Homo sapiens: one gene and its partner. The protein of the gene in region 2 interacts with the protein of the main gene of each other region in a biochemical or structural test. Each region holds a gene or a part of one and is shown on either strand. Other genes may lie near its edges. The genes, in order: RHOQ and CDC42BPG.

What was found.
Region 1: the proteins of CDC42BPG (region 2) and RHOQ form a complex in vitro, tested with the Homo sapiens proteins (one study listed by BioGRID).

What each region holds. Positions count from the first base shown.
Region 1 is NC_000002.12:46,545,459-46,552,710, reverse strand, and holds part of RHOQ (rho-related GTP-binding protein RhoQ), read right to left. Parts: intron 1-7,252. UniProt on the Homo sapiens protein: Plasma membrane-associated small GTPase which cycles between an active GTP-bound and an inactive GDP-bound state. In active state binds to a variety of effector proteins to regulate cellular responses. Involved in epithelial cell polarization processes.
Region 2 is NC_000011.10:64,822,450-64,827,803, forward strand, and holds the end of CDC42BPG (serine/threonine-protein kinase MRCK gamma), read right to left. Parts: intron 5,335-5,354; coding exon 5,237-5,334; intron 5,163-5,236; coding exon 5,078-5,162; intron 4,950-5,077; coding exon 4,829-4,949; intron 4,719-4,828; coding exon 4,601-4,718; intron 4,346-4,600; coding exon 4,222-4,345; intron 4,107-4,221; coding exon 4,021-4,106; intron 2,081-4,020; coding exon 2,024-2,080; 3' UTR 603-2,023; downstream 1-602. UniProt on the Homo sapiens protein: May act as a downstream effector of CDC42 in cytoskeletal reorganization. Contributes to the actomyosin contractility required for cell invasion, through the regulation of MYPT1 and thus MLC2 phosphorylation.

The DNA of each region.
Region 1 (7,252 bases), on a different chromosome or scaffold from region 2:
GTTGACTGACTGGATGAATGTTCTCTTCTAGGCTTGCCAGCCACCACAGGAAGCAGCCAGGCAGGATTTGGGAGCCCATGCAGAGGTGGTGGCAATGGGGATGGCCCAAGAGGGCAAACAATATGAGCAGCAGGTGGCAGAGGAAGTTTTGCGCCATATTTAGAGAATATTCAGATGAAGGAGGGACAAACAGTTTTGCAGAGGTAGGCTTCCCCTGAATAAGAAAATCCTTGAAGGGAGAAAGGAAAGGCCTGAGGTAGCCCCCATGGGACACAAACGACACCCGTCATTTGCAGGCTAAAGCTGGCCCGCCTGGCAGCCCCCCAAACAGCATTTCCCTGTCCCTCTCTTCTGGGAAGGGGCCACAGCTTTAGGCAAATGGCATGAGCTTCTTCCACACGTACTTGAGCAATGGGGCCATCAGCGCCACCTCGGGCCTGCTCCTTTTTGAGGAAGCATGGTGGTTTAGGGACAAAGTGACAAAACACCCGTAACGTCACGTGGGGCAGAAGTCTTTGTAGGAGCCGTTTTAGCAGCCGTCCCTACGTGTTCCACCTATACACAATGTTCCACCATCTCTTCTAGCTAGAAAAGCGATACGCTTGGAATGTACCTTTTACATGAAACGCTGAACAACAGTGCATGTGATAAAAGAGGCATTTAACATGGGCCAGATGATTAGGGAGAGTGACTTAACATCAAGAACCCAGGGCTTAAAGTCCGACAGCCTGCCTGGTGATCTCGGCTTTGCCTTTTACCAACCGTGTGGCCTGGAGCGAGTCATTTAACCTCCCCAGATCTGCAAAATGAGACAGCCACCACTGGCTTCCTTTACTCACAGAGCAGGTGAGGGAACTCAAGGCGGTACCAGGTGCGACATGCTTTATGTGCTGTAAAAATGTCATTTGATGATGAGCCTGCCACTTTTAAGCCCCTCAGTCTACCCTGAGCCTGAGTAGAGCAGGAAAATCTAGGGATCTGGAGAGGCGGCTGCTTCAGTGCTCTCACCATTCACTCAAAAAGGAACAGAGACAGCAATAAAGACCCCTTTCCCCACATTCTTTTCTTTCTATTAAAATCAACCAGCAACACAGCACCAGATTAATATCTCTTTAATTACCAAGTTGTCAGTCACCAGGTGAAAAACTCCATAATTTAGTTATCAACCCTGCTCCACATGTTGACACTGATAGCAGGGATCTGGGGTCCATAAAAAGACGCTTTGGGGTCACCCCCTCTGCCGTTCCTCCCTACACTATTCTTCCCACTCAGAATATGAGCTCTCCACACCCCTCTGCCTGCTGGAACTCATTTAGGTCAATGCTTCCCAAATCTTCACCTCATGGCACACAGAGAAAATGAGATGATGTGTTCAGCACACATCGGGTGGAGTAGAGGAGCCACTGCTGCATGCCTGAGGTGAGACTGCTCAAGCTAGGACAACCTGAGCCATGGCTTGTCCCAGGCCCTACCCAGCTGCCCTGAGGGCTGAGGAAATCCCTTATCTGGGAGCTGGGAAGCTCCAACATATCTAACAACCCCACAAGGAGGTACTATCATAATCTCCATCTGACAGATAAGGAAACAGGTTTCCGAAGGTTAAGCCCCTTGCTGGGAAGTGGCAGAGCTGAAGTTGGGCCCTGGGAGTCCAGTGTGGGGGTCCACACTGGCAACCAGTACTCTACTGGCCCCCATCTCTTCCTGCAAGCCTAGATCTTCCAAAAAGCTCCTCCCTGTCACCTCTTCCTGTGTGGGACCCTGCAGCACTCAATTTCACACGATGAACTTGCCCAGTTGTGTAGTGGACCTTTCTGTGGCCCGATCCCCCACCTTCTCCTGTGGAAGGTGGGAACACACACCAGGCATTGAATCAACACCAACCGAACTGAGCCAGTGTGAAGCCCCCAGAGCTAGCCTGGGCCCGCACTCTCAGCACCAAGCCCTACAGGGTAACGACATACATCATTTCTAATCCTTACAGCTATGCTGCAGGGTATAAATTATCTCCACACTTCACACAGAAGGAAGAGAGGCTCACAGAAGTGAGCCGGCTGGCCGATGTCTCACAGCTACAAAGAGGTAGAACTAGGATTCGAAGTTCATCTGGAGGCTCCAAAACCCACACTCTTTCCACTGCCAACCTGTCTCCTCCTCAGGGGATCTGGGAGCAAGAGGTCTCAGGAAACATGCAAAGGCCGGAGTCTGAGACAGAGTGTTGGGGGACAGACAGACCCACTGGTGATCACTAAGGCCCCTGGGCCTGTGTAAAGACAAAACTGATGGCCTGCCCCATACCTATGTGCCTGTTTCTCCTTTGAACCTTAAAGACTTCTACTGTATTAGTGAAGCTTTCCTGGAAAAGGGGTTGTGCTGATGCTATTATTTAGCAGCTATGACTTTAGTCCTTGGTTAACCTTTTAGCAGAAACAAGCTGACAGTCAAATGAGAATCAATTCTTTTTTTTTTTTTTTAAATAAACACGGTCTCGCTCTAATGCCTAGGCTGGAGTGCAATGAAGCCTTGTATTATAGCTCACTGCAGCTTTGAATTCCTGCACTCAAGTGATCCTCCCACCTCAGCCTCCTGAGTAGCTGGGACTACAGAGGCATGCATTACCACATCTGGCTAATTAAAAAAAAAAATTTAGTAGAATTGGGGGTCTTGTTGTGTTGTCCAGGCTCGTCTTGAACTCCTGACCTCAAATGATCCTCCAGCCTTGGCCTCCCAAAGTACTGAGATTACAGACAAGAACATGCCACCCTGCCTGGCCATGAATCCCCTTAAGATGTATTTGTTGCATGCCTACAAGGTAGCAGGCACTGGGCTGAGCACTGCAACATGGTAGAGAAAGACACTGTTCTTGAAGAGAGCAAGAACGCATCCAGGAGGTCCTGGCCGGCACTGGGCAGGAGAGCGTTCTACCCAGGGAGCCGGGGGACCCCTGAGAGCTCAGACAGCCCAGCCTCCGTACATGCAAAGCAGCTGTGCTCAGAAACCAAAAGAGGAATGACAAATTGCTGAGGGCAAGGAAAGCTGCTCTCTGACCCAAGTGTGCCAAATTAGGGCAAAGCCAAGCCTGTCAGAGAGAAAGGAAATACAGCTGAGAATCAGGAATTTTAATTTTTAAGAGCCACACATGGTCTTCCATCTTGTTTCTTTGTAACTGCGTCCCTCTCCTGCTGAAGCATTGCTGTTGTGTCTGAGGCCTCTGTAGCACCCACAGCTGCCAACACATGTGCTCTTTCTGGAAACGGACACCCCCGTGGAGAGCTACTTTGTTGGCTTTGTTTTCATACCATTAGATCTAATCTCTTGAAACCCCAAACTGCACAACAAAACCGCAAAAGCCCAATTCTCCATGGGGCCTCTGACCCCGAGGGGCTTAAAGCAATGCTTCCCACCTTTTTCACATCACAGCACCCACAGCAACTGACAATACATGCTCAACCCCCTTAGGCTGTCACTCCCCCGGCCCCTCAGAGATGAGAGCTTGGCATCTCAGCACACCTGTAACACTCATGCTTGAGATACCTGCGGGGAAGCTGTCGTTCAAAGCGTGGGAATGTCACCAAACCTCAGGAGAATCATGATGGAAGTGGAGAAGCCAAACAGATCAAAGGTCCAGGATGGGGATGGGGCACAGATTATGTGCCCGATTATGAGGCATAATTGTAGACCAACGAGAGCTGGTGGGGACTGCCCCCACCCTAAAGTCCCTGCCTGCCAGCCCACAGTCTAAGCTGGCATAACCCAAACCCACATCAGAGTCCCAAGGAGGGGAACACAGGGCATTCAGACTTTGGAGCGAACACAGCAAAGGCTTTGGAGTCAACAAAGGCTATCCACCTTCCCAACGCAGAGGAGGAAACCAGCATTCCCGTGTGATGCGGTGTGGGCTAGAGATATAAATAGCTTCTAAAAAGGTTAGCAAAATGCACACATGACAAATCTACAGTAGGTTACTAAGGGAAACCAGGATGCTCAGTGCCAGCATCTCACCTGTTGCAGCTGATGCCTGGAAGGAACCCTGGGGCTCCTCCCAGGCTCTGCTCACCGGGCTGAGCAAGGATGGAACACGGGGCTACAAGGACCCAGAGTCTGATGTTGTGAGTGGCATTTCCTAAACCCTACTAATGTTCCCTGCAGGCCTTCTCCAAAGTAGAAAACCTTTTTCCTAATCACATCTCTGTCTGGTTCCCATAAGCCCACTTGTTCCCAATTTCCTCATCTGGGAGAAGTCTACCTTGAAGGGTGTTGTGAGGATGACTTGCCTGGAGGTGGGAGGAGCCTGGTGAGTGGTGATCCCATGGCCCTTTCTCCTTCCCTTTTCTCATCATGCCAGGCCCTTCTGCTAAAATGCAGAAGGTGGGGCATGCCAAGCCTGCCTCCGGTGGAGATTCCCTTCTGTAGGGGAAGTGCCTTGTGGGCACCCAGAGGGCATGCAGGGCAGCCACAGCTGCTGGGTTATATCAAGTGTAAAACAAATCTCACTTGTCATTGAAAAAGCAACACCAAGGGACACCAGAGTAAAAGATATTTATAGCTGTCATGGACGCTTCCCTGAACTTGTGTGTTTAAGTTAACAGACATAGAAACAATACATCCCAAAGCACACAAATTGACTTCCACACACTGAGACAGTGGCTAAATCTGGAACTCTAGGGATCCCAAATTCACCCCCAACACACATCCTCCTGAGTGTGGATATTCTGGGACCTGAATAAACTGGGCTTCAGTCCTTCCCTCTCCAGGGTATCAAGTTCTGCCTTCCTGCCAAGGATTAAGAGATCAGCCTAGAGCCCACAGCTAGAGAGCAGCTTGCCAGGCAGCTCCCCACTGGCCTGTCTGGACAGAGAGGGAGAGCTCTTTCCACTTCCCATCGCTCCAAACAGTGCAGTAGCAGGAGGGAAAATCCCATCTCTCCAGTCCCTCCTTGAGCAGACAATGGGGTTGCTGCAGAGCCTACACTGAAGTCCTGAAGGCTGGGCAAGAAAGGAGAAGCTCCACAGAGGCCCAGGCAGGAAGCCAACCCCTCACCCCCAAAACACACGCAAGGCCCCTAGTGAGAAGGAAGATGCCTCGGTCAACTTCCACTCCAAAATGCTTGGCAGTCAAAATGTGACAGCTGCTCCTGGACCACCCATGGGCTTGGCCAACAGAGGGGAAGTGTTCCCTTTGGCAGTGGTGCTCTGAGTGTGCTGGGATGTCCCCAGGCAGTGCACATGATGGGGACTGAAGTCCAATACACTCTCTCTCCCATTCTCTCTCTTTGTCTGCTAATAGCAGCAGAGGTCAAGTGGAAAGCAGCCTGCTCTAGAAGGCCAAAGGTCATCTACAACAATCACCCTTTGACTGGTAGATGCCCTAATATGTCAGTCGGACAAATGATGCCTATGGCTTTGAACTTGACTGGGGTTAAGGCAGGGACCATGAGTGAGCAAGTGGACTAGAGGTTCCAAACTGAGGGAGGCACTGTTGCTGTTATTCAAATACAATGAGTGCCCACATGCATGAGTGAACATTTTGGAGAGAAGGCAACTGACCTGTAGTGCCATGAGCTGCCTCATTCCATCTTAACTCTCTGAAAGTAGAACCAACTGAAGCCTACATACCCTACTTGTCTGTCAAATTCTGCATGGAACTCTAAGCTATTTCTCTTCTATCAATGGGGATACGGGCTCTGCTTAAGACAGAAAACCATCTGATACAACAGGGCATTTACGGCAGGGAGCACTGGGCTTGGAACCATGGATCCCACAATAGGGACTATGGGAATTACAATGCGCAAAGCTGTTGCACACCTTGGTTGAAAAGGTTCTAGGATCTGGCATTCTAGTGGAATTTCTATCAACTCCAGGCACAATATACTGTTCTCTTCCACTCTGTGAACCTTTCTCCCCACAAAACTCCCCATAGTGGAATATAATAATTTCCTGTACTATTTGTCACTCACCCACTATGCACAAAGTATCAGCTGCTTTTAAATATGTTAAAGAGTTTAAGCCAGCCTATGACCTTGTAATGCAGATTCTAATTATTCACGTTTTTACTAGATCACAAAGGTAAATAATTTAGCTAGAATCACATGACTAGCTAAGGTGGAGATCTGAGCCCAGGCCTGTTTTGTTCCAAAGCCCATGGACCTTTCTCTGCTGCCCACTAGGCTTAAGGATTTGTGTATATATATATATGTATATACATATATATATATATATATATATATATATATATATACACATATATATATATATATATATATGTATATGTGTATACGGATACATATATATATATATAAACCCTTAATGTTTTTTATTTACTTTTTATTTACATGTTTATTTATCATTGTTATTATTGTAAGACAAATCTGATATGGATTCCTAGAAGCCTGAGGTCTTAATGACCAAGTGCAATGTAGAGATCTCCTATGTAACACATGAACAGAGACCCGAGACAGACATTTCTCCCTTTGCTGACATCAGCTGTGGTAGATCCCCATTTTAAATTCATTCCTTTGCACTCCCCAGGTGCAAAAGTACCTGGACATAGTACCAGGTACACAGCAGGCACTTGCCATTTGGTCTCATCATTGCTAAGTTGCTTATTAGTAATAAACCCTCAAATGCTGGGAGATGAAATATTACTAGCTTTGATGCAAAAACAAAAGTCTAGACACTGGGAAAAACACCAATGGGGCCTAACACACATCTAGGCCCCACCAATGGTGTCCAGCATTGGGTGAAAACAGTAGTATTTGAGCCTTACTAATATGTTCATCCTGCTTGGTCTATATCTTATGATCCTCCACTAAAAAGAGTAATTACGGCCATATATGGAAAGCCCTGGTTTTGTAAGTGGGGTCAACTTCAAGTGACTCTGGATCTAAGTTCTCTCCTCTGTAGAGGTGCCATCCAACACCCACTCAGAGAATGGCTGTGAAGATTACAGGTACCACAACTATGGATGCACAAACAATCCAATCAACCCCGTGGCATCTCAGCATTCCCATGGTGTCCTGTGTGTATAACTACTTCAAACTGGAGCAGATTCAGACCCCTGTCCCAATCCTAGCAACACCCCTCAGTAGCTGTGTGACCTCAGGCAAGCAACCTAGCTTCTCTGAGCCTGTTTCCTCACCGCAAAGATGAAATACCACCTATCTCATGGGGTTGTTTTATGGACTAAATAAAATAATATTTGCATGTGTCTGCCTCTGGCCCCATATGTAGGAAAAAACTCAGTAAATACTAGCAGG
Region 2 (5,354 bases):
GTGTGAGCCACCAAGCCACGACTTTTTTTTCCTTTTTTTTTGAGACAGAGTCTTGCTCTGTCACTCAGGCTGGAGTGCGGTGGCACAGTCCGCCCGCTTTGGCCTTCCAAAGTGCTGGGATTACAGGCTTGAGCCACCGTGCCCAGCCAGTTCACTGAATTCTTGGAGCCTCTGGCTGCTGGTTGAATTTGGACAAAGGGAGGCAGAAAATGGGAGGGAGTGAGGCGGAGGAATTTATTTCCTAGGCTGCCTTTCAGCTCAGCCATGGTCAAGTTTTACCAAAAGCTAGAGCTCCTGTCGGGTAGCACCACTGCCTCTTCCTGCCTGGGTGGCCTGGGGGTCCTAAGAGCTCCTCTCTGCTGCCCGGGCCCTGAGGCACTGCCATTCATTGGTGTGTTCCCTTAGCACTGTGCATGCTTCTGTAAACTGCCCTTCGTTAGTTAAGTCCCTTCATTTACCCCATTTGAATGTCACCTGATTCCTGAAAAGGCAGGGAAGACAATCTGGCCTTTAACTGTCTGTGACACCCCCACTGTTCCCTCCATTCCTAATCTCCCACCTTCTGAACCCCAAGAGGACAGATCCAGGCAAGGAGGCCAGCAGCTTACAAAGCTGTCTTTATTGGTTTCCTTTTCTTTTCTTTTTTTTTTTTTTTGAGACGGAGTCTCACTCTGTCACCCAGGCTGGAGTGCAGTGGCGCGATCTCGGCTCACTGCAAGCTCCGCCTCCCGGGTTCACGCCATTCTCCTGCCTCAGCCTCCCGAGTAGCAGGGACTACAGGCACCCGTCACCACGCCCGGCTAATTTTTTGTATTTTTAGTAGAGATGGGGTTTCACCGTGTTAGCCAGGATGGTCTCAATCTCCTGACCTCGGGATCTGCCCGCCTCGGCCTCCCAAAGTGCTGGGATTACAGGCGTGAGCCACCGCGCCCGGCATCTTTATTGGTTTCTTGCGCCTCACAGAGCATCAGGGTCTGTCCCTCCTGGGAATGTGGCATTTGAGGAGATAAATACTTATTTTGCCCCCCACACTTCAGTGGGGGGAGGTTTAATAAAAATAGTAATATAATAACAATATAATGACTGTGATCAATAGTAAAATGCGCCCTAGTTTCCAATACACAACTGGTTGAAGATTCGAGAAAAACGACCCCCTTTCTGGGAAGGGCCAGAGTGTGCCCGGAGACCCTCCAGTGGCCCCCACTGGGTACCCATCTCCCACCAAAAAGCCCTTATAAATACCCTCCCCATCCTGTCCCTGTCCAGGATTCTCTTCCCCGATGGGAGGATTGGCTGACAGTGTCAGCCCCGCCCACTGCACCCCTCCCCAGAGAAAGGACCCTTTGTTCTCCAGACTCCCTCTCTCCTCCATCCCTCTTTTTGTCTCCCTCCTCTTCTTCATCGCTCCTCCTTCGTCCCTCTCCCCTCTTCCTCTGCACGGCTTCTACCTCCTTCCAATTCCTATCACCTCCTCCTCCACTTCCTTCCTCCTATCCTGTCTCTCACCTCCTTCGCCTACATCCTTTCCCTCCTTCTCTATCTTCCCTTCTTCTGGATCACAGCCTGTTTTTCTCACCCAGACGCTAAGCAGAGACGGGGACATGCCCCATCTTGGCCTCAGCTGGGAGTCAGACAGTCCACAGATAAGACCTCCAACCTGTTCCCAGAGACCCAGTCCCTCTCCATCCCTCATCCCAACTCTTACAAGCCTCTGGGGGCTTGGCACTGGAAATAAGAGCTTTGGCACAATCACCCCTGGACACCAGAACAAAAGGGGCCATTCTATTCCCAATGGCTTAGAAAGGCTGGGGCTGGGAACAGAGGGGTAAGGCAGGATGAGGGCTGGGAGTCAGGACCCCCAAGTCCTGGGAACCCAGGCAAGTCTCCCAGTCATTGCCCAGCCCGGGTCCTCCCTGAGTCCGAATTTCCATGTCCCGGACCAGCCGGAGTATGGCATTCCTCAAGCTCTTTGCTCCCTCATGTCCTTCTGCCCTGGGATTGGGGTGGGCCCTAACAGAGGGCATCAAGGAGAGCTCTCCAATTCAGGGGATAGGGGGAGGCTTCGGGGCCGTTCTGAGACCTGCAGGAGAAAGAAAAGGAAGTCAAGGGGTAGGATCAGGAAGAACTCTTTCCTCATAGGGCTGGTGGGTCCTGGAGGCCCCCTTAGGACCCATCACCCACTGTATCAGGGCCCCTGGAGGAAGCCAGATGTGAGGTGAGGAGTAGAGGTGGTAAATGGGTCACTGGAAGAACCTGGAGAGCTCCTACTTAACTTTGAATGGACTCAAAGTCCTTTTTTTTTTCTTTTTTTCTGAGACAGAGTCTTGCTCTGTCGCCTAGCCTGGAGTGCAATAATGGCATGATCTTGGCTCACTGCAACCTCTGCCTCCCAGGTTCTAGTGATTCTCCTGCCTCTGCCTCCCAGGTAGCTGGGATGACAGGCATGCACCACCATGCCTAGTTAATTTTTGTTTTTCGTTTTTTTTTTTGGAGACAGAGTCTCGCTCTGGAGGCTGGAATGCAGTGGCATGATCTTGGCTCACTGCAACCTCCGCCTCCCAGGTTCAAGTGATTCTCCTGCCTCGGCCCACCAGGTAGCTGGGATTACAAGCATGCACCACCAGGCCCAGCTAATTTTTGTATTTTTAGTAGAGACAGGGTTTCACCATGTTGGCCAGGCTGGTCTTGAACTCTTGACCTCAAGTGATCTGCCTGCCTCAGCCTCCCAAAGTGCTGCGATTACAGGGGTGAGCCACAGCGCCCAGCCTCAAAGTCCCTTTGTTCATTCACTCCATTCTTCCTTCAGTCGACCACATGCTTTACTCTGGGCAGAAGAATGAAGCCTGACCCCCACCACCAAGGAGCCCACAGTCAACAGAGGAGAACAGGCACCAGAAGAAACCCACAGCACAGCAGAAGCTGCAAGGAAGGTGTGGAGGGAGCGGGGTGGCAAAGGTGGCACCAGCCCCAGGGAGGCAATGACTACCTGACCAAGCGGCCAGGAAGGCTCCTTTGAAGATGATCCTGGTGGGTCACCTGGAGGGCAGTCTGATGTTGGTTAAGGTGAAGATAGAGAAAAGGCATTCAAAACAGAGGGGACTGCAGGGGCAAGAGCCTGCAGGTGTGGAAGAACATGGCAAGCCCCAGGGCTCCAAGTGGCCTGGTGTGACGGGAGTGGGTGGATGTGTGTGCTGTAGACGTGGCTGCAGGGGGAATGGGAACCTCCCTGGCTTCTCTTAGGTTTTCCCCTGCCCTCATTCAGAATGGACTGCTCCCTCCTCTGACCCCCCAACTCCCTGCTGTGGACTGGGCCTCTATTAAGAATCCCAAGAGTGGCCGGGCATGGTGGCTCACATCAGTAATCCCAACACTTTGGGAGGCCAAGGTGGGCGGATCACTTGAGGTCAGGAGTTCGAGACCAGCCTGGCCAACATAATGAAACCCCATCTCTACTTAAAATACAAGAATTAGCTGGGCATGGTGATGCATGCCTGTAATACCAGCGACTTGGGAGAGGCTGAGGTAGGAGACTTGCTCAAATGTGGGAGGTGGGGGTTGCACTGACCGAGATTGTGCCACTGCACTCCAGTCTGGGTGACAGAGTGAGACTCCATCTGGAAAAAAAAAAAAAAAAAAGAATCCCAAGAGCTCCCCTTCTGTGGCACCTTCCCCATGCCAGGTACTATGCTGAGCCCTTCGCAGGTATCATCAGCTCATGCAGGCCTCCCAGAAACCACATCATTTTACAGGTAAGACAAGATCAGGGAGGTTGGGCATTTTGCCCAGAGCCACACAGCTGGAACAGTCAGAGCCAAGATTCCCACCTAGGCTGGCCTGCATCCAGGATCCTGCTGGTGCCCACTGGTGGGGTGAGACAGGTAAGAATCTGCATCTCGTAGAATCGAGGGCAGGGATGGGCTCAGCTTGTTCCCTAGCCTAGGTCACTGTGCAAGGCCTAGCATAAAACGGAACTGCCTGACGTTTGAATAGGGGACGGACAAGCCTCCCGGACCCGCTCACCTGCATTAGGGAGGTTGCAGGGCTCAGCGATCCCTGGGGGCAGGACACAGACTCGCTGGACAGGGATGTCCAGGGTTTCCTCTTCACTGCTCCAGCAGCAGACGAGGAGACAAAAATACCAAGATCAGATTTCAGGGATCCAAAGGGGGTAGAAACTTGGGGTGGGGGGTGGCACACTGGAGGCTGAGGGGCTGCCCTTACTGGGGTCTGCGTCTCCACCGAGGCCTTCGCTGCCCATGGAGGCTGGGCGCCGCAACGCCTCGGAGAAGCTGTGGGGCCGCTGTGGGCCGGAGCCGCGGGCAACTCGGCCCTTCTCTTCGGGAGCCTGTTGGGTGACAGTGCGGAGGGGCTGGGACTAGCAGGCACAAGGAGGACAAGAGGCCCAAGGCACAACAGACCAGGACAAATGAACGCCACTGGGCCCCCAGCCTGGTTTTACTTAAGTCCCAGGTAGCAGAAGTGTGAGTCCCAGGCCTTAGGAGTAATTACAGCGGCCCGTGATTGGCTAGAGCTCACCACAGAGGCCGGTTATTGGCTCAGCCTCACCAAAGTGGCTTGTGATTGGCTCCAGAGGACTAACCGGGGACTTGTCCCTGGCGCCGGGCCGCCCGTTGGCAGGGCCCACGTGTACTAGGTGGTTGAAGTTGGTAGGCGGCGAGATGAGCTTGGAGCGCACAAAAGGGTCCTTCAGCATCTCCCTGTGGGCGGAGGTGTAAGTAGTGGGTGGCGAAGCTCCACCCTCCCTTCGACCCGTCCACAAGCGGAGGCGGCCCCACCCAGCCTCAGCCCCCGCGTCGTGCACGCGCACCTGCGCTGCTGCTTCTGCTGCTCCTCCGACACGCGGAAAAAGAAGCGGCGCTTGCTCTTGGTGCGGAACAGCTGGCGCCGGCTGTTGTCGGTGAGGTCCGGGATGTCGAACTCGTCCTTCTCTGTGGGAGAAGTGGAGAGCTGGGCTGTGCTCACACATTCCCGGGGCCCAGTCAGCTGGCATTCAGGGCCACACAGCCACACGTGCGCACTGGGGAACGCACACACCCGTACACACGCACTCCCTCACCTGCCAGCTGGTTCCTGAGGTAGGTCAGGCGGACCTTCTCGGTGCCGTAGAGGAACAGGGAGCCCTCTGGATTGAGGGGCCGCACCTGAGGCAGCAGGCACAGCGGTCAGGCCACGCCTCCACCCCCGGCGCTACCCCAGGGCTCTGGCGGACCCTCACCTTCTTGAGCGGCACGGTCTGCACCCATTCTGCCCTCCTCACGTCAAACACATCGATGGAGTTCTCGCTGAACACTGTCAGGTAGGGGGCCGCATACCCTGCGGGCACGCCAGGCACC